2 separate regions of the Homo sapiens genome follow, and region 1 is linked to region 2. The links come from fine-mapping of genetic effects on gene expression. A gene starts in region 2. The other region holds a variant in brackets. All regions are shown on one strand. Distances are between the middles of the regions. Region 1 overlaps GOLGA1 (golgin A1). Region 2 holds the start of ARPC5L (actin related protein 2/3 complex subunit 5 like).

Region 1 (10,110 bases), 50 kb after region 2:
ATAAAAACATTGTAGTGTTTACACAAGAGCAGACAATCAGACCAATGGACAGAGAATGCAGAGACAAACCCATGTGCAGACAGAAACAATACGTGATAAAGTTAGCAAGAGGAATCAATTCAGAAAGGACAGACTGTTTAGTAAATGATTTTGAGAAATATGCAGAATTTCTCCATATTTAGATCCCTACCTAAGACCATACAGAAAGACAGTTTGTAAGTGAATTAGAGATTTATTATGTGAAGGAAAAATTATAAAGTTAATAGGGAAAAAACAGTAGATCTCTGTGACTTAGGAACAGGAATAGATTTTCTAAATGGAACTTCAAACTCCACAGCAAAAATGTGATGAATCTGGTAACACTGAACTTAAGAAAGTCTATTCAACAAAGGATACATGGACAAAGTTAACAGAATGACTCAGGACTGAAACTGATAAAGCATTAGGAACAAGAATATACAATGAAATCCTACAAACCAAATAAGAAAAGACTGAAACCCCCAAAGAAAATAAGGAAAGGATATGAATGGGCAATTCCAAAAGCAGAAACCCCCAGGAATTAACAGGCACATGAAGACAAGGCCAAACTCATTAATCACCATAGCAATGCAAATTAAAGCAATGAAATACCACTCCACACTCAGTAAACTGGCAAAAATTGTAAAGGCTTGGAAATGCCAATGCTGGAAAAGTCAGAAAGGCATATATAGGAACGCTCATGCATGCTGGAGGAGGAGAGCCAGGTGCAGGCTTGCTGGGAACAATCTTCTCCTATAGTACTTAGTCTCTTTAGGTTTTATGCATGATCTGAGGTGGCAGGAAGAAGGAAGCAATCTGGATGTCTACCACATAGATAACTACAAAGTACAATGAAGTGGGTACAGACAGAAGTTGAGGCAGCTAAAAGTAATAGAGAAAACATACCCATAGCTGCATCATTTACAGAAATTAAAAACCCAGTGCTACATATTTTAAAACAACCCAACAAAAAGAGCATCTATATGAACCACAACGGAATGGTATCCTATGGGAGGGAGGCCAATGGGGATAAAAGGGTATAAATAAACATATAACTCAATCATAGTAATGTGACAAGGATGAAGAAAATGACTAACTCATCCCTGTATAGGTAAGATCCAAAAATAATCCCTTCTAGTGAAAAAACTCTGACCAAGAAGATTCTCAGTCACACCATGTTGCCATTCAGCCAGGTTACCACCCAAACTTAGGAAACACCAGGAGTAAGGTCAGTACCCGAGTCTCCAGGGTGTTAATGGCCTTAGCCTGGCTGCTTCTGGCTGCCAAGAGCTGTTGTCTGGTATCCTCCAAATTCTGCTCAGCAAGTGTTTTCTGTAAGTTGAAAGAAGAGTAAAAGAAGACTATCATTCCTCAGTTGAATAAATATTTACAGATTATCTACAACATATTGTGACTTGTGCTAGGCACAAGAGACATGAATACATTTTTAATAATTCAGCTAATTGAGAAATAATTCACATATCATAAAGTACACACAGATAAATTTGAAATAGTCCCTTGACCTTGAGGCTGGAACAAAAGACTAATAAAAAATTACACAATAGAGTACAGTAAGTGTCCACAAAGAGGAAGAAGCACAGGGTGGGAGATACTCCCTGCCACAGGGCAGGTAGGCAGCTTTAGAACTCACAAAGTCGTTAGGGTTCAGGGAGCCTCCCAGGCAGGGGGATGACCAACGGCTATGTGAACAGCCTGCTACGTTGAGGGAACTACTACTCCTCAGAAGCCAAAATGATGATGGGTTTAGGTCAAAAAACAAGACTAGAAAGATAGGCAAAAGGGCCAGCTCATGAGAAGCTTTTGAATGTTGCAAAAAGGAGTTAGAACTTGATTCTGTAAGCAACATTTTTCAAAGTAGAAATTCTAGGCCGGGTGTGGTGGCTCACACCTGTAATCCCAGAACTTTGGGAGGCTGAGGCAGGCAGATCACTTTAGGTCAGGAGTTCGAGACCAGCCTGGCTAACGTGGTGAAATCCCATCTCTACTAAAAATATTTTAAAAATTAGCTGGATGTGGTGGTGGGTACCTGTAATCCCAGCTACTTGGGAGGTTGAGGCAGGAGAATTACTTGAACCCAGGAAGCGGAGTTGCAGTGAGCAGAGATTGTACCACTGAACTCCAGCCTGGGTGACAGAGTGAGACTCTGTCTTAAAAAAAAAAATGGGGCTGGGAGCGGTGGTTCACGCCTGTAATCCCAGCACTTTGGGAAGCCGACGTGGACAGATCACGAGGTCAGAAGTTCGAGACCAGCCTGACCAACATGGTGAAGCCCTGTCTCTACTAAAAATACAAAAAAATTAGCTGGATGTGGTGGTGTGCACCTGTAGTCCCAGCTACTCGGGATGCTGAGGCAGGAAAATCACTTGAACCCCGGGAAGCAGAGGTTGCAGTGAGCCGAGATCACGCCACTGCACTCTAGCCTGGGCAACAGAGTGAGACTCCGTCTCAAAAAAAAAAAAAAAAAAAAGAAATGTAGACTTAGCTGAGATAGCTGTTACTGAGATAGTTGTTAATCTCAGCTAGTTGCACAGATTTGAGGCCTTGCTCCAAGCCTAAGGAAATCAGAATTTCTGAGGGTAGGGCCAGAGATATATACTTTATTTACTTATTTATTATTTTTGAGATGGAATTTCACTCTTGTCGCTCAGGCTGGAAAGTAGTGGTGCGATCTTGGCTCACTGCAACCTCCGCCTCCTGGGTTCAAGTGATTCTCTTGCTTCAGCCTCCTGAGTAGCTGGAATTACAGGCACCCGCCACCATGCCCAGCTAATTTATTTATTTATTTATTTTTTTGAGACAGAGTCTCGCTCTGTCACCAGGCAGGAGTGCAGTGGCATGATCTCAGCTCACTGCAACCTCCCAGGTTCAAGCAATTCTCCTCCCTCAGCCTCCGGAGTAGCTTGGGACTACAGGCATGTGCCACCACGCCCAGCTAATTTTTGTATTTTTAGTAGAGACGGGCTTTCACCATGTTGGCCAGGATGGTCTCGATCTCCTGATCTTGTGATCCGCCCGCCTCGGCCTCCCAAAGTGCTGGGATTATAGGTGTGAGCCACCGCGCCTGGCCTAATTTTTGTATTTTTAATAGAGGCGGGGTTTTGCCATGTTGGCCAGGCTGGTCTTGAACTCCTGACCTCAGGTGATCTGCCCGCCTCGGCTACCCAAAGTGCTGGGATTACAGGCGTGAGCCACCACGCCTGGCCTAGAGATATATACTTTAAACAAACTTCCCAAGTAATTTCTATGCACATTAAACATTATAATAATGATGATGGCACAATAATAATATTGATCATGTTTACAGCTGACATACATTGAGACCCTACTCTGTTCCGGTTATCATTCTAAGCACTTCACATATTGTAACTTATTTAACCCTAACAACAATTCTGAGTTTAATAGTATAATAAAACCAATTTTATTGGGGAGGAAGCAAACACAAAGAGATTAAATTACTTGCTCTAAGTCAGGGGTCCCCAACCCTTGGGCCACAGACCTTGCAGTCTGTTAGGAACCAGGCCGCACAGCAGGAGGTGAGTGGTGAGTAAGCACTACCACCTAAGATCTGCCTCCAGTCACATCAGTGGTGGTGTTAGATTTTCATAGGAGCATGAACCCTATTGTGAACTGTGCAAGTGAGGGATCCAGGTTGCACACTCCTTATGAGAATCTAGGGACGATGATGATCTGAGGTGGAACAGTTTTATTCTGAAACCACCCCCTCACCCGACCCAACCTGACCCCATCTGTGGAAAAACTGTCTTCCACGAAACCAGTCCCTGGTGCCAAAACGGTTGGGAACTGCTGCTCCAAGTCAAAGCTGGTAAGCAGAAGAGGCAAAATGCAAGCATGGACATTCTGATTCTAGAAATCAATTTATTCCCTAGAACCCACATTACACTTCCTGTAGACTGTTGAAGGGAATTGTAGAAGATGTTTAAGAGAGTGATATGGTCACCAGTGCTGATTAGGAGGATCAGTTTGGCAGTGAGCGTGGGAGACTGTGTCAGAGAGTGAAGGAAGAGAGACTGATGCTGGGTAGGCCAATCTGGAGACTTCTAACATAGACTAGGCTAGATTTGCTGGAAACCCTGAAGTACAACCAGTGGCACTGGAGATGGAGGTATTTAGTTGAAACTGACTGAAGAAAGAAAGGGAGGGTCTAATCTAGGAGCCTCATGACCTGGGCTTTGTCACCTTTGTCACAGTGTGGCCAATCACTGGAACAGAAAGAGAGGGAAGAGCAGAATGTGTGCAGACAATGAGCTCAGCCTGATGAGAAAGTTCCCTTGCACCACTGGGGAAGAGGCCAGTCTGCACAACAGCCTCCCTTGGGAAGGAGAGAATGCTGCCCAAGGTAATTCTTGCTTTTGCCAAGGGGCAGATGTAGCTATTTACCTTGGCCACTGCAGAGTACAAAATGGTGGGGAAGAGGG[C/T]AGTGCAGAAAGACAAGGCAGCCCAAGTGGCGGAAATCACTAGGTGTGGTTTATTGGTGATGAGATGCTATCCGTTTGTATGTATCTCTGAATACAGCTCTCCCTTTCCCTGAGAAAAGCATGTCACCCACAGGGGACATAAGGCTCTTTCTGATGTAAGCAGGACAAGCCAAAGTTGGAGACACTTCTTTTGTTACCATGCTGTTTGCTGGCCCTACAGCTCTGAAACTCTAGGAATTGTGAAGTCACCAGAATCAACCCTGCCTTTCCAACACCAGCCAGCCCAAAGAGAACAGAAGTTACCTCTTTCAGGAGTTCTTGCAAGTGTTCTTCTCCTGATAAGTTCTGTTCTAGTCTCTTCTCCAAGGATGCAACCTTCTCTTGCAAATGTGTGATAACGTCTTCTTTCTCTTGAGTTTCAGCAGTGACCTGCAGGTGAAAGCAGAGATCACTCTATACTAGAAGCCCTCTCTTCCTTCCTTCCTGCTTTCTTTTGGGCCATCACATTTTCCTGCAACTCTGTCCTCAACTGTATCCTAGAAGAACAAACAGCTAAGAGATCTTCCTGAAAATGGGATACAGAAAATGCAAGATTAGAACCTGGCAAAACTCAGGGATCCAGCTCAGACCTAGTGCAGCAAGAAGCAAACACTCTTCCCAATTAAACAACTGACAGTCTGGAACAAAGGCATTACCTACGTGGTAGAGGCAGCAGAACTAATCCCACCAAGAAGCACTCAGCCTGCAATGACCTATGGAACAATGCTCCTGAAAGCTGAGGGGCTGGATAAAGCAGTAACAGTGCTGATGTAGTGGCTTTAAGGCTAAAGAGAGAACTTCTGAAATGATGAGATTCACCTGGCTCACAGGACAGGGACCACAGCAGAGCTGCCATGCTTCTCATACCTTGGCTTTAGACCAACAGCTGCCCGTTTTATTTCAATCTATTATTTTTGGTTTTTTGAGACGGAGTGTCGCTCTGTTGCCTTGGCTGGAGTACAGTGGCGCGATCTCGGCTCACTGCAACATCCACCTCCTGGGTTTACGCCATTCTCCTGCCTCAGCCTCCCGAGTAGCTGGGACTACAGGCGCCCACCACCACACCCGGCTAATTTTTTGTATTTTTAGTAGAGACGGGGTTTCACCATATTGGCCAGGATGGTCTCAATCTCCTGTCCTCATGATCCACTAGCCTCGGCCTCCCAAAGTGCTAGGATTACAGGCGTAAGCCACTGTGCCTGGCCAGTCTATCTCTTTAGCTATGATGGTAGTGGTGGTAGCAACAGGTTGGGACTAACTTGGTTCCTTTTACTGCTACTAATCTTCAACTGCTGCTTGTATTAGTCCATTCTCACACTGCTATAAAGAATACCTGAGACTGAGTAATTTATAAAGGAAAGAGATTTAATTGACTCACAGTTCCACATGGCTGGGAGGCCTCAGGAAACTTACAAGCATGGCAGAAGGAGAAGGGGAAGCAAGGTACATCTTACACGGTGGCAGGATAGAGCAAGCGAGCGAGGGGGGAAGTGCCATACTGTAAAACCATCAGCTCTCATGAGAACTCACTCACTATCACAAGAACAGCAAAGGAGAAATCTGCCTCCATGATCCGATCACCTCCCACCAGGTCCCTCCCTTGACATGTGGGCATTACAATTTGAGATGAGACACGGAGCCTAACCATATCACTGCTCAATGTCAAAGCAGAGGATCCAGGAAGCTTTGAATACATGAGTTCTTACATCCCCACTGAGGATGCCCATTCTTCCCCAGAAAAGGTTGTAGGGCAACAAAATCTCACTGTGAAGACTTGTACCTCTTTACATGTACTCTGTTCCCTCAAATTCCCTTATCTTACACTTCCGTTGCTCCATTTCAAGCCATAAACTTTCATGTTCAGTTGTAACTTGGCCGATCTCTCCTCAGGATAAGATGCAGCAACCAGGGTGTATGGTTTTGGGAAGAAGTATTTGCCATTCTGAATTCTCACAGGTGGACAACAGAGATAGTGGAGGGGAAGTCTGAAGACTAGATTTATGACCCCACAATTCAATAAACTTTCATCAAGCCTGAACTCTATCTGTTGTTTTCTGAGGATACAATCAACATTAATTCCAGCATGGAGGCTGGTGGTGGAGACAGACACACACCTAATTACAAAACAACTGTGCTTCAACAGAGGGACACACACCGTGCTATGAGATATGAGATGCAAGAGGGATTAACTGGGAGAATCAGATCAGGCCTCCTGAATGGGCAAGTCCAGGTGAAAGAGGGTGGAAGAGGAACAATCATTCTGCATAAAGGGCAGCACATACAAAGAGGTAACAGACAAGTCCTGCAAGGCTAGAGGCTGGGTGAGGAGGAAAGAACAGCTGAACACAACTCTCAGGTCTGTGGCTCAGACACCTGGGCAAATGGTAACATTATGCAAGGTGGATAACACAGGAAAGTGAGTGAGTGTGATAGGAAAAAAAAAGCCAGTTTTGGCCATGTTGACCCATCTTTATGGGTCTCTTATTACTAATGTTAATACTAGCAATAGTTATAACTGTAATATAGCAGAAGCAGCTATAACAAGATTGCTGCAGCAATCTTGAAAAAGAATAACTGTAGGCTGGGCGTGGTGGCTCACGCCTGTAATCCCAGCACTTTGGGAAGCTGAGGTGGGCAGATCACGAGGTCAGGAGATCGAGACCATCCTGGCTAACACGGTGAAACCCCATCTCTACTAAAAATACAAAAACAAAATTAGCCGGACGTGGTGGCAGGCGCCTGTAGTCCCAGCTACTCAGGAGGCTGAGGCGGGAGAACGGCGTGAACCTGGGAGGCGGAGCTTGCAGTGAGCCAAGATCGCGCCACTGCACTCCAGCCTGAGCGAGGAGCGACACTCCGTCTCAAAGAAAAAAAAAAAGGAAAGAAAAAGAGTAACTGTTGATGTAAGAGTTGGAGAACATTACCTGATTTCAACTCTAAAGTGACAATGACCAAGACAGTGTGGTAATAGCGTAAAGACAGACATATAGGGTCAAGGGAACGCTGCAAGCACTTCCTATTATGTCTAGTCCTTACAAATGCTCTTTATCACATCCATTTACAAGGAAACTGAAGCTTAGGGACTAGCCCAAAGGCATATACCTATTAGCGATAGATGAAGAATTTAAATCCAGGTCTTCTGGATCCAAAGTCTGCATTTGTTCCCCTACACATCAATCTGAATTCAAGAGGTATAGATGACCCATTCCAGTTAAAACCAAAACAACACATCTTACACAGGTCACTGTGTTAGGCAAAGTTAGGGACAGAAAAAGAATCAGTGGCCAAGTTCCACTTATGCCTCTTGTGCAACATATTGATATGCGATCTCCTTCTCCAGGCTGGCTGATTTACTTCAGGCCCTCTACACCTCATGTGGACTACGGGAACAGTTACCAAGCCATACTCCCTGACATCAAACCTGCCCCTTTCCTAATGATCACCCTCTTCACCTACTCCCTCCCGAGTCTGGGTCTCACAGTTATAGTCCCAGAATATGGACTGCATCAATTCTGGGTGGTGGTCACTTGATTCAGACAGACATGAGTCTGAATCCTGGCTCTGTCATTGACTCCAGCTGTACGGTCTTGACAAATCATTTAGCCTTTGATGTCAGATGCCCATTACTATCACCTGTAAAATAGGAAAACACTGTCTAACCAAAGGGTAGTTGTGAGGACTCGATGAGTCCCTATCTGTAAAGCTCTTGAATACTGAGCTCAGGGTAAATGCTCAGCTATTCTTGTTAAATATTCACTAATGATTATTTATGAAATTTCATGTTCACTATTTAGTCTATACAACTGGCCCTGCATACCTTCCCAGCCTCATCTAGCACCGTTTCCACTTCCTTTCTAAGCGTTAACCACTTGTCTATCCTTTTGGTTCTCCCAACATGCCTTTTTTTCCTTCATTATAAATGTATTTATGGTGCTGAGACCAGTGGCTTATGTTTGTAATCCCAGCACTGTGAGAGGCCGAGGCAGGAGGCTTGCTTAAAGCCAGGAGATCAAAACCAGCCCAGGTAACACAGGGAGATCTTTTCTCTACAAAAGTAAAAAAATTGAAAACAAAAAAGGTTGAGGTTGCAGTGAGCCAACATCGCGCCACTGCACTCCAGCCTGGGCATCAAGAGCAAAACTCTGTCTCAAAAATAAATAAATAGATAGATAAAATAAAATAAATGGCAGGGCGTGGTGGCTCACGTGTGTAATCCTAGCACTTTGGGAGTCCGAGGCAGGCAGATCAAGAGGTCAGGAGTTCAAGACCAGCCTGACCAATATGGTGAAACCCTGTCTCTTCTAAAAATACAAAAATTAGCTGGGCATGGTGGCATGTGCCTATAGTCCCAGCTACTCGGGATGCTGAGGCAGGAGAATCACTTGAACCTGGGAGGTGGAGGCTGCAGTGAGCCAAGATCACACCACTGCACTCCAGCCTGGGCAACAGAGCAAGACTGTATCTCTAAATAAATAAATAAATAAATAAATAAATACATAAATATACTTATTTAAGTAAAAAAAAAAAAGTAAGGTGAATTCCATGAAAATATTGTGTTAAGTACAATACAGGTTAGGAAGAACATAAATTGGGAAGTTGAAAGATAATGGCTACAGTTGAGGAACTGCTATCCAGTAGAGTAAAAAATGTGTAATTCTGAACACTGTGGGTTAAATAAAAACAAAATGAAAAGAATTAAAGTAAAATTTTGTTTCCAAACTGACAGACATCTGGTAAGAATAAACTAGAAAAAAATAGAAAATGCATAAATACTACTATGAATGAAGATAGGGGAGCAACTAAAAAAAGAATATAAGAAATACAATGCCAAAACATTAAACTTATAGCAAATGAACAATTATGTAGAAAAATATAAATTAACAAAACTTAGGAAGAAATACATAAACTTAGAATTACCATTAAGGAAATCTATTCAGTAATTAAAAATCTTCACAAGCCAGGCAAAGTGGCTCATGCCTGTAATCCCAGGACTTTGGGAGGCTGAGGCAGGAGGATTGCTTGTGTCCTGGAATTCAAAACTAGCCTGGGCAACATAGTGAGACCTTAACTATAAAAAAATTTTTTTTTAATTAGCCAGGTGTGGTAGTGTAAGCCTGTAGTCCCAGATATATGGGAGGCTGAAGTAGGAGGATCACTTACACCCAGGAATTTGAGGCTGCAGTGAGCCATGATTGCACCATTGCACTCCAGCCTGGGTGACAGAGTGAGACCCTGACACACAAAAAAAAAAAAAAAAAAAAAAAAACGAAAACAAAAAAAAAACCCACCATCGACAAAAATTAAAATTTTGGTATGTCCCTACTATATTACTATATAATTGAGAAAAAATAAATTATAGCTCCAGGTATCATATGAATGTTTTTCAGGAGTGCAATGTTGAGCACAAAAAGTAAGTTTAGAAAAATACCTACAGAATGATTTATATAACATTAACAAGCATGGGAAACTAAAGAAGATAGTTTAGGGATAAAACTGACAACATTAGAAAGCAAAGTAGACAATGAAGCAATCTCCAAATAGTACTTACTTCCAAAGGAAAAAGGAATGGGATGGAATAGTGAAGGGCACAGAGGGA
Region 2 (10,110 bases):
TCCAGGCATCCGGCTCCTGGGACAAGACCATCCACATCTGGAAGCCCACAACCAGCAGCCTGCTTATCCAACTGAAGGGCCATGTCACCTGGGTGAAGAGCATAGCCTTCTCTCCCGACGAGCTGTGGCTGGCCAGCGCCGGCTATTCCCGCATGGTAACCACCCCGGGCCCATCCTGCTCCTACCTACCCATCCTCACCCCACCAGGAGCCCTCAGCACTCACTCCAGAAATGCCCACATCCCCACTTGCCCTAGCTAGGAGGGGGCAAGGGCAGGACCTGGGTGCCAGCCTCTCTTCCTAATGGCCAGCACCAAGGTTAGGGCTGGCCCATTGGTAGTTGCATTGACATTTCCATGACCCAAATGGCATCAGGCAAAAGGGAACTCCTGCTCTGAAATTTCAAATACAGCCTCCAAACAAAACCTACACCAAGAGGTTCAGATGTTTTTTGGGCCGGGGGCGGTGGCTCACACCTGTAATCCCAGCACTTTGGGAGGTGGAGGTAGGTGAATCACCTGAGGTCAGGAGTTCAGGCGAAGACTCATCTCATATTTTGTCTGGGACTTTCCTGGAGGTGGCTTCAGATGCCACAGTGGCCTGGTGAGGCTTCCTGACATGCCCCCCTCCTTTTCCAGGTCAAAGTCTGGGACTGCAACACAGGAAAGTGCCTTGAGACCCTGAAGGTAAGGCACGGCGCTGTGGCACTGAGGAAGCTGTGGACAGCTTCTCCCAAGGCAGGACTTGCCTCGAGCCCCACCTTCTACTCTTAGCAGGGAGTCCTGGATGTGGCCCACACCTGTGCCTTCACCCCAGATGGGAAAATCTTAGTGTCTGGAGCTGCCGATCAGACTAGACGTCAAATATCCCGCACGTCCAAATCACCCAGGGACCCTCAAACCTAACACCAACCACCTTAGATGGTGCCGACCTCACCCGCTCCCCTCAGTGGCGCACAGGCATGCCGCTTCTCCCCACAGACGCAAAGTGACTGTGCTGGCATCCAGCAGATCCCCATGGCCAGGACTCTCCAGGCCCCACCAGAGCAGACAACTGTGGTGGGCAGGACGCTTGCTGGAACCCATCAGACACCTGGTCCCCAAAACCAGACCCACCCACCTCCACCCAATCAGTGGAAGTGCCAGGAAACAAAGCAGTCTCAGCCAGCTGTGCTTTATTGACAATGCGCCCCTCAGGCCTTGACCGCGTACTTCCGCAGCGGGTACAGCCGCTCCTTCCGCTGCTGCTTCTTGGTCTTCAGGTTCTCCTCGTGCTTGTTGAGCCGGCGGCGCATGGCACGTGTCTTCTTAGGCCGCAGGTCCAGGGGCTTGTACTTCTTGCCCTGGGAGACAGACGGCAGGGTGAATCCAAGGACCCAGGGCTGAGGAGCTACTGCAGCAGCTAAGGGGGCTGGGGAGGGCCATCCAGAGCCACTCAGGAGGAGGCTGCCACCATGGGACTGCCAGCAGGCCACACATGTCACTAACTCAATTAATCCCCCCAAATCTAAGGCTGGTGGGACCATCCTCATTTCATGTAAGTCTGCTGACCTACTGGGCTGAGTGTCCAAGTCTTGGCAAAGCTGTGGAAGAGCCGGGGCTTGCATCTCAGTCAAGTGACTCCCAACTCAGTGCTCCTTCCACTGCCCGATTCCCAGTCACGAGGACAGTCACATGACAACCTAGTACAGGGCACGCAGCACCCACCAAGCCCCGGGGGTAGTTACCATTACCTCGGCTCTGGTTAGCAAGAGCATGCTGGGGGCTGAGGCAGTACTCTGTCCATCTGTATGCAGGGCCCACCAGCTGCTGCCTGTATGAACGTCCAGCCTCAGAGGCCTGGCTGGCCAAGGCCACTTGCCCCACCTGCTTCCGGCTTTGGGGCCCCTGCCCACAGCTGTCACAGAGCCATCATCTGTCTTTCCATCCTTGGCTCCCACTCCTGCCCCACTTGTTCTCCAGCAGGGGGTTCTAGACCATGGCAGCTCTCACTGGTCTCTCCTGTGTTCTGCAAAGGTCCCCTGGGCCCCCTTCAGGACTGGGCCCTGTGCTGGGAGCTGGCTTGGCAAAGGATCTGACCCAGTCCCTGCTCAGGGGTCCCAGCCTAGTGGGGGAAGACTGAACAGGTAACAAGTGGCCCATGGTATGGGGGATTCTGAGGTCACAGGGCCCCAGGCCCCTGCAGGTGGGCAGAGGACTGCAGAAAGATCCTGGACAATGAGGGCCAGCCCTGGAGGGTACTTGGAAGCAGGAAAGTCTTTGTCCTCCCACATCCCTCACTCCTGCTGGCATCGGCTGGGCATTCGTCCTTTTCACATTGGCTAACCCCCTAGAGTTCTGCTGTCCAACAGAGCAGCCACTAGCCACACACGTAGCTGCTGACATTAAAGGTTTACTTTTGCCACACACGTGCTAGTGTCCCCTGAACAGCTAACATAGCCACACTATGGCCCTTCTCATTTTTTTGAGATGAGGCCTCACTATGTTGCCCAGGCTACACTTTAACTCCTGGGCTCAAGCCATCCTCCTGCCTCGGCCTCCCAGTAGCTGGGGTTATAGGCCTGTGGCACTTCATCAGCCATGGCTGCTTTTCCCTTGTGTCAAATCTTCAAGTTATTCAAACACAATTTGGGTAGTGATGTGGAACCATTTTGCAGATGAAATTAAAGACCCTCATCAGGTAACTTTAGGGGAGATTATCCTGGGTAATCCCAGAAGGCCCGATCCAATCAGCTGTAAGTCTTAAGCACAGGGCTGAGGCTCCCTCCAAGTACCCACTGGGAACAGCAGCTTCAACCTGAGCCCTGAGTCCCAGCCAGCCCCCACAATCACCTATGCCCATTCTTCAGAATACATTGGATGCATGTGCACACACCGTCTCCCCCTAGTTTTCTCTGCTTGAACCCCAATAAGATGAATGTTAAGGACAAGACCAGAAAATGGTTATCAAAATTCAAGACTAAGAGGGGGCCAGACACCTGTGCACACCTCCCAGAACACTAAAGCCGACCCTCCCCAAGGTAAGGTTTGGAACCAGGGCCCATCATGCCATTGACTGTGGGTGTCTAGGCCTCAGGGCCCTCATCTGAAAAATGAGCATGGCAGGTGCCTGGCAGGGACTGACACCCAGTGCCAGTAAGAGGCAGTGAAAACCTTCAACAGCCAGTCCTATCACTGCCCAAGCCACTCAACTGGGAAGGCTGGTTTCAAAAACTGAGTCTCCAGCCAGGACACCCCAAGCCCCAATGAATTCTTGACATCTGCAGCCTGAGGAAGTGGTCTGCAGAGCCACGTGCCAGTGCAAGACACTGGTAGAAGAGTGAGCCCAGCAACAAATTGGGAAGGCTAACCACTCTCAGCCCACGCACCAAGAAAAACCTCTTTACCATGTCCCCGGCCAGGGACGGCTAGCACTTGGCTTCCTGCAGCCAACCCTCCCTATGTCCAGGCAGACTCACCTTGTAGAATTTCCTGAGGTTTTCTTTCTGAGTCTGGTTAATAACTGTGAGAACACGGGCAATGGATTTCCGGACGACTCGGCTACAAAACAGAGATGTCAGTGAAGATAGGGAAGACACATAGCACTACCCAAGACTCAGGACTCACACATAGGGCAGCAATAGCTGCAGCCTCCCCCATCAACCCATCCATATTCACTCAGGAGGAAGGCGTTCTGGGAGTGAGGTCTGAGGAGGGAAGAGAGGGGCATGGGAGAGACAGCAGAGGCTTTATGAGGAAGTGCAGGCTGGATAAATGAGGCAGATCAGAAAAAGACCTTCAATCCCAGAACACGAATTTATCCTGAGGGCTAAGACCCAACCAATGCCAATTTCAATGAGCTGATGGGAAGGAATCATGCCACAAACCAGGCAATCAGGCTAGCTTAGGGAACTGCAGGAGAGAGAAACAAGACATTTGCAAAGTGGAGTCACTACAAGCCAGGAGACTGAAGCAAACAACGAGCCAGGGAGAAGTTATTTGTAGTCATGTCAGGATGAGGGAGTCACCTAGTAGACAGCTGGTCAACATGGTTTTTGAGGATTCAGTGTGCAACTGTGCTTGTCCAATCCTCCCACCCCTGCCTCTACTAAGGTTGTTTGGGGGCAAAGAGGGCAACCACCATTTTTTTTTTTTGGAGACAGGGTCTCACCTGTCAACCAGACTGAAGAGCAGTGGCCCCATCATAGCCTCCCAACTCCTGGGCTCAAGTGATCCTCCTGCCTCAGCCTCCAGAGTAGCTGGGACTACAGGCCTGTACCACCACACCCATCTAATTTTTTTTTGAGAAGTGGACTTTGTACCCAGGTTGATGAACTCCAAACCCATGTTCCTTTCACAAGTCTCCCGCACTCTTAGCCATGTAAAATAACTTACGCTGCCACTCCAGGGTGCAAGCCACCCACCTGCCAAGGGGGTTAAAAACTCAAGTGTTGGTGGGAAGCGGAAGGAAGGGGTCCGGGTAGGCTTTGAAGGCAGCATTAAGATGGGTCTCCGGGGATGCATTCCAGGCACAAGGACCGCAAGGTCAAGGCAGGTAAGAGGCTAAGCACACAACGGGTCTCCCATGCGCGCCAGGATGCACGGAGTGGGCATCTAAGCGGCCAGCTCCTTAAGCCAACTTTGAAATCCTCCGACGATCCCGATGCACACGTGCTCCCCACCCACGAGGGCTGTGATCCGGCCGCCTCACTTACATCTTAGAGAGCTTGGAGGCCGCACCGCCTGTCACTTTGGCGACGCGCAGCTGGGACAGCTCCACCTTCAGGTCGTCCAGCTGTTTCAGCAGCTCCTCCTTCTTCTTCCCGCGAAGATCTCGAGCCTTGATCTTGGCCTGCGCGCAAGAGAGAGTGTGCCTCAGCCAGGCCGCGGGGCCATATCCCCTTCACCTGCGTGGCCAGCCCCCAAAGGCGCGCGACTCGCCATCGACTACGAGTGCGCCGGAGCCCCAACCAGGGCTCAGGACAGTCTCCCTCGCCGGCCGTGCCTTGGGCAGAGTAACCCAGGCCCGGGCCGCGCGCCTCTCCCGGCGCCAAGCGAAGAGGCGGGTTGTGGTGGCGCCAGACCATTCTGCGCGGCGCCCCACAGGCCTAGGTGGCAGATAGAATCCGCGGGCTCAGCCCGCACCGCCTTCCCCAACCCCCGCGCCTCACAGCGCTCGGATGGCGCCCGATTCCGCAGCTCTCACCATTGCTGCACAAGCCGCCAACGCCGCCGCCCGCTCCGAGGGAAAGAGGAAGTAGGCGGGGCTGACCTCCGCAACTACTGCCGGGTGGCGGCGGGCGCGGCCAATGGCGCCGCAGCGGGGGAGCCCCGGCTCCGCCTCATCTCCCCCGCCCCCGAGGAACGCCGTGGTACTGCCCGCCCCGCCTGGTAGGGCCGGAGCCCCGCCTTGTAGTGCTCGCCTCATTCACGGCACCCCTGATAGCGAGGTCGGCGTCACGGTGTAGGCGCGCAGTTGGGGAAACCGAGGCCCAACGTGGGCGGCAGCTACCAGAGATGGCACACGGAGGACTCAAATTCGTCCATTCAGTCATTCGTTCATTCATTCCTTCGGGAAACCTTGCAGATCTCCCAATCTGGGCAACTCTGAGCTGGGCGCCAGTAGTCTGGGGGTGCTGACGGGAGGAGGGGCCAGAGTTTTCAAAGACGATTAACCGAGGCTCACGTCGCGGAGGAATTTAAAGCGCGAGATGGACGGGAGGGGCGGGCTCAGGCAGTTATAATCCAACTCCATAAAGGTTCTGGGGAGGCAGTATATGGAACTGCAAAGAGCATTTACACCTTTTTTTTTTTTTTTTTTTTTGAGACAGAGCTTCATTCTGTCGCCCAGGGTGCCAGGCTGGAGTGCAGTGTCGCGATCTCGGCTTACTGCAACCTCCGCCTCCCGGGTTCAGCGATTCTCCTGCCCCAGCCTCCCGAGTAGCTGAGTAGCTGGGATTACAGGCATGCACCACCACGCCTGGCTAATTTTTTGTATTTTTAGTAGAGACGGGGTTTCGCCATGTTGCCCAGGCTGATCTTGAACTCCTCAGCTCAGGTGATCCCCTCGCCTCGGCCTCCCAAAGTGCTGGGATTACAGGCGTGAGCCACCACGCCTGGCCCCAGCCTTTATTTATTTTTTTTATTTTTTAATTTTTTTTTTCAGACAGGGTCTCGCTCTGTCACCCTGGCTGGAAGGCATGGCGCGCTCTCCGCCCACCAAAACCTCCGCTTCCCGGGTTCAAGCAGCCCTCCCACCTCAGTCTCCCGAGTAGCTGAAACTACAGGCACAAGCCACCAGGCCTGGCTAATTTGTTTATTTTTTGTAGAGCTGTTGCCCAGGGTGGTCTCCTGGGCTCAAGCAATCCGCCCTCCTCGGCCTCCCAGAGTGCCTAGGATTACAGGGGTTAGCCACCTCGCCTGGCCATACAGCCTTTTTTATTTTTATTTTATTTTTTATATATTTTTTGAGATGGAGTCTGGCTCTGTCGCCTAGGCTGGAGTGCAGTGGCGCGATCTCGGCTCACTGCAACCTCCACCTCCCGGGTTCAAGAGATTCTCCTGCCTTGGCCTCCCCAGTAACTGGGACTACAGGTGTGTGCCACTACACCCAGCTAAATTTTTGTATTTTTAGTAGAGACAAGGTTTAGCCAGGCTGGTCTCAAACCCCTGACCTCAAGTGATCCACCCGCCTCAGCCTCCCAAAATACTGGGATTACAGGTGTGAGCCACTGCGCCCGGCTAGTACAGCCTTTTTTAAAGTGAACCTGACCAGGTTTCAAATTCTTGCTCTGCTGCCAAGGTAGTAGTTGAGACTCTTGGGAAATCTCTTCCCCTTTCTTGAGTCTCAGTTTGCTCACATGTGAAATGAGGCATTTATGAGAATTAGAGGAGATATCTGTAAAGCTGTTAACCCGAAATCTGACGCATAACAATGGCTCAAAATATCATTGGTGTTCATGTTCCCAGAGGAAGGAACACTTCAGTAGAGCCCGGAAAGTGAAACGGGAATTCACAAGGCAGGGCATGTTTAGGCTTTCTGATTAATGTCTGCCAACCAGTAGGCATTAATCAGCACTCCAGTGCCACTCCCTTGCCCTTAATAAAGACATGCCACCTCTTAGAGTTATGGTTGAAGCCAGATTGTCCTCTTGTTACTACCAGCTGTAACCACCCACAAGGAGACTTCTCCCATCTCCTATGAGTAGCAACCTCTGTGCAATCCTTTCCTTAGCCCCAAACAGGCTGAAATAAAATGATGCATTTATGTGTCTATTTCCACAGCCAACCTAGAAGTTCTCTGGGGACAGAACCTTGGCGGACAACTGAATTAATTGTTCTAGTCTCCAGGCCCAGTACATGGATGCTTGTTGGATGAATTAATGAACCTTGACCCACACCAAGGTGAGGAAGGCTTTCAGGAGGTGGAGGGATATGGGGAAAAAAGAGAGTAGAGAGAGGGCAATCCCGGCATGGCTTAGACTTTTTTTTTTTTTTTTTGAAATGGAGTCTTGCTGTGTCACCCAGGCTGGAGTGCAGTGGCACAATTTCAGCTCACTGTAACCTCCACCTCCCAGGTTCAAGCGATCCTTGTGCCTCAGCCTCCTGAATAGCTGGGATTACATAGGTGCGTGCCACCATGCCCGGCTAATCTTTGTATTTTTGTTTTTTTCCAAAATGGAGTCTTGCTCTATTGCCCAAGCTGGAGTGCAGGGGCACAATCTCGGCTCTCACTGCAACCTCTGCCTCCCAGGTTCAAGCGATTCTCCTGCCTCAGCCTCCCGAGGAACTGGGAATACAGGCATGCACCACCAAGCCAAGCTAATTTTTGTTTTTTTAGTAGAGACGGGGTTTCACCATATTTCACCTGGCCACCATGTTGGCCAGGCTGGTATTGAACTCTTAACCTTGTGATCCGCCTGCCTTGGCCTCCCAAAGTGCTGGGATTACAGGTGTGAGCTGCCGCGCCTGGCCCATCTTTGTATTTTTTGTAGGGACGGGGTTTCGCCAGGGTGGTCTCAAACTCCTGACCTCAAGAGATCCGCCTGCCTCAGCCTCCCAAAGTGCTGCGATTACAGGCATGAGCCACGGCGCAGTGCGCCTGGACCTTTTTTTTTTTTTGAGACTGAGTTTCATTCTTGTTGCCCAGGCTGGAGTGCAATGGCACAATCTCGGCTCACTGCAACCTCTGCCTTCTGGGTCCAAAGGATTCTTCTGCCTCAGCCTCCCAGCCTGCCTACAGCTACTGTAATCCAAGTAGCTGGGATTACAGGTGCCGCCATGATGCCTGGCTAATTTTTATATTTTTAGTAGAGACGGCATTTCACCACGTTGGCCAGGCTGGTCTCAAACTCCTGACCTCAGGTGATCCACCTGTCTCGGCCTCCCAAAGTGTTGGGATTACAGGTGTGAACCACTGTACCTGGCCGGCATAGCTTAGTCTTAAATGAAAGTCTAGGCCGGGCGTGGTGGCTCACGTGGTGCACGCCTGTAATCCCAGCTACTCTGGAGGCTGAAGCAAGAGAATCGCTTGAACCCAGAGGCAGAGGTTGCAGTGAGCCGAGATCGGGCCATTGCACTCCAGCCTGGGTGACAAGAGGGAAACTCTGTCTAAAAAAAAAAAAAAAAAAAAAGGAAAGTCTAATGGTGCACAGTGCCTTTGCTGTTATATTTTTAAATGCTTAGAGTTAATGACTCTGCACATCTTTTTCGAACCTGAAGTCATTTGTGACTCTCTCTTACACGCCACATCTAGTCAACCAGTAAATTCCAGGTACTCTACCTTCAAAATTTACCCAACTTAAGGCCGGGTGAGGTGGCTCACGTCTGTAATCCTAGCACTTTGGGAGGCCAAGGCAGGTGGATCACCTGAGGTCAGGAGTTCGAGACCAGCCTGGCCAACATGGTGAAACCGTGTCTCTACTAAAAATACAAAAAAAATTAGCCGGGCATGGTGGCGGGTGCCTATAATCACAGCTATTCGGGAGGCTGAGGCAGGAGAATTGCTTCAACCCAGGGGGCAGAGGTTGCAGTGAGCCAAGATTGCGCCACTTCACTCAAGCCTGGGCGAAAGAGCAAAACTCCATCTCAAAAAAACAAAAAACAAAAAAAACAAAATTGGGACTGGGCGTGGTGGCTCACACCTGTAATCCCAGCACTTTGGGAGGCCAAGGCGGGCAGATCATGAGGTCACGAGTTCGAGACCAGCCTGACCAACATGGTGAAAACCTGTCTCTACTAAAAATATAAAAATTAGCCAGGCGTGGTGGTGTGCACCTGTACTCCCAGCTACTTGGGAGGCTGAGGCAGGAGAATCACTTGAACCCTGGAGGCGGAGGTTGCAGTGAGCTGAGGTTGGGCCACTGCACTCTAGCCTAGGCGACACAGTGAGACTCCCTCTTAAAAAAACAAAAAAACAGGTCAGGCGCAGTGGCTCACGTCTGTAATCCCAGCACTTTAGGAAGCCGACGCAGGTGGATCACCTGAGGTCAGGAGTTTGAAACCAGCCTGGCCCACATGGTGAAACCCTGTCTCTACTAAAAATACAAAAATTAGCCAGGTGTGGTGGCAGGTGCCGGTAATCCCAGCTACTCCAGAGGCTGAGGCAGGAGAATCACCTGAACCCTGGAGGTGGAGGGTGCAGTGAGCTGAGACTGTGCCACTGCACTCCAGCCTGGGCAACAGAGTGAGGCTCCATCTCAAAAAAAATGAATAAAATAAAACAAAATAAGAAATTGGTGGGGCACGGTGGCTCATGCCTGTAATCCCAGCACTTTGGGAGGCCGAGGTGGGCAGATCACCTGAGGTCAGGAGTTCAACACTAGGCCAGCCAACATGGAGAAACCCCGTTTCTACTAAAAATACAAAATTAGCCAGGCATGGTGGCGCATGCCTGTAATCCCAGCTACTCGGGAGGCTGAGGCAGAATTGCTTGAACCCGGGAGGCAGAGGTTGCGGTGAACTGAGATAGCCCCATTGCAGTCCAGCCTGGGCAATAAGAGCAAAACTCCGTCTCAAAAAAATTAAAAAAAAATTTACCCAGCTTGTTCCCACCATCCTCATTGGCCCCTGCCTGGTTGGGCTACCACTGTCTGTCCCCTGGATGGTTGCTGTCACCATCTAAATCACCTCTC

What was found. PIP is the estimated chance that this variant, and not a neighbour inherited with it, causes the effect.
Region 1: its variant is the best candidate, but not a certain one, in a credible set for the expression of ARPC5L in lung (TOPMed, PIP 0.70).

The regions. Positions count from the first base shown.
Region 1 is chr9:124,907,123-124,917,232 of GRCh38, forward strand. It overlaps GOLGA1 (golgin A1), which reads right to left. Exons shown (of 23, transcript NM_002077.4): 11 at 4,779-4,904; 12 at 1,255-1,350. Among named protein-coding and RNA genes, the nearest start is that of GOLGA1, 29 kb to the right of the region's middle. The variant C/T (reference allele first, on the strand shown) is at 4,476.
Region 2 is chr9:124,856,727-124,866,836 of GRCh38, forward strand. It overlaps ARPC5L (actin related protein 2/3 complex subunit 5 like), which reads left to right and starts at 5,404. Exons shown (of 6, transcript NM_030978.3): 1 at 5,404-5,672; 2 at 7,262-7,381. WDR38 (WD repeat domain 38) reads left to right here. Exons shown (of 9, transcript NM_001045476.3): 7 at 6-155; 8 at 638-685; 9 at 776-1,152. The coding sequence ends at 904. RPL35 (ribosomal protein L35) reads right to left here and starts at 5,231. Exons shown (of 4, transcript NM_007209.4): 1 at 5,184-5,231; 2 at 4,693-4,829; 3 at 3,457-3,538; 4 at 1,157-1,341. The coding sequence starts at 5,186. The coding sequence ends at 1,192. RefSeq lists silencers at 1,819-2,101, 5,141-5,410 and enhancers at 2,742-3,243, 3,244-3,743, 4,732-5,355, 4,791-4,840, 4,881-4,990 and 1 more.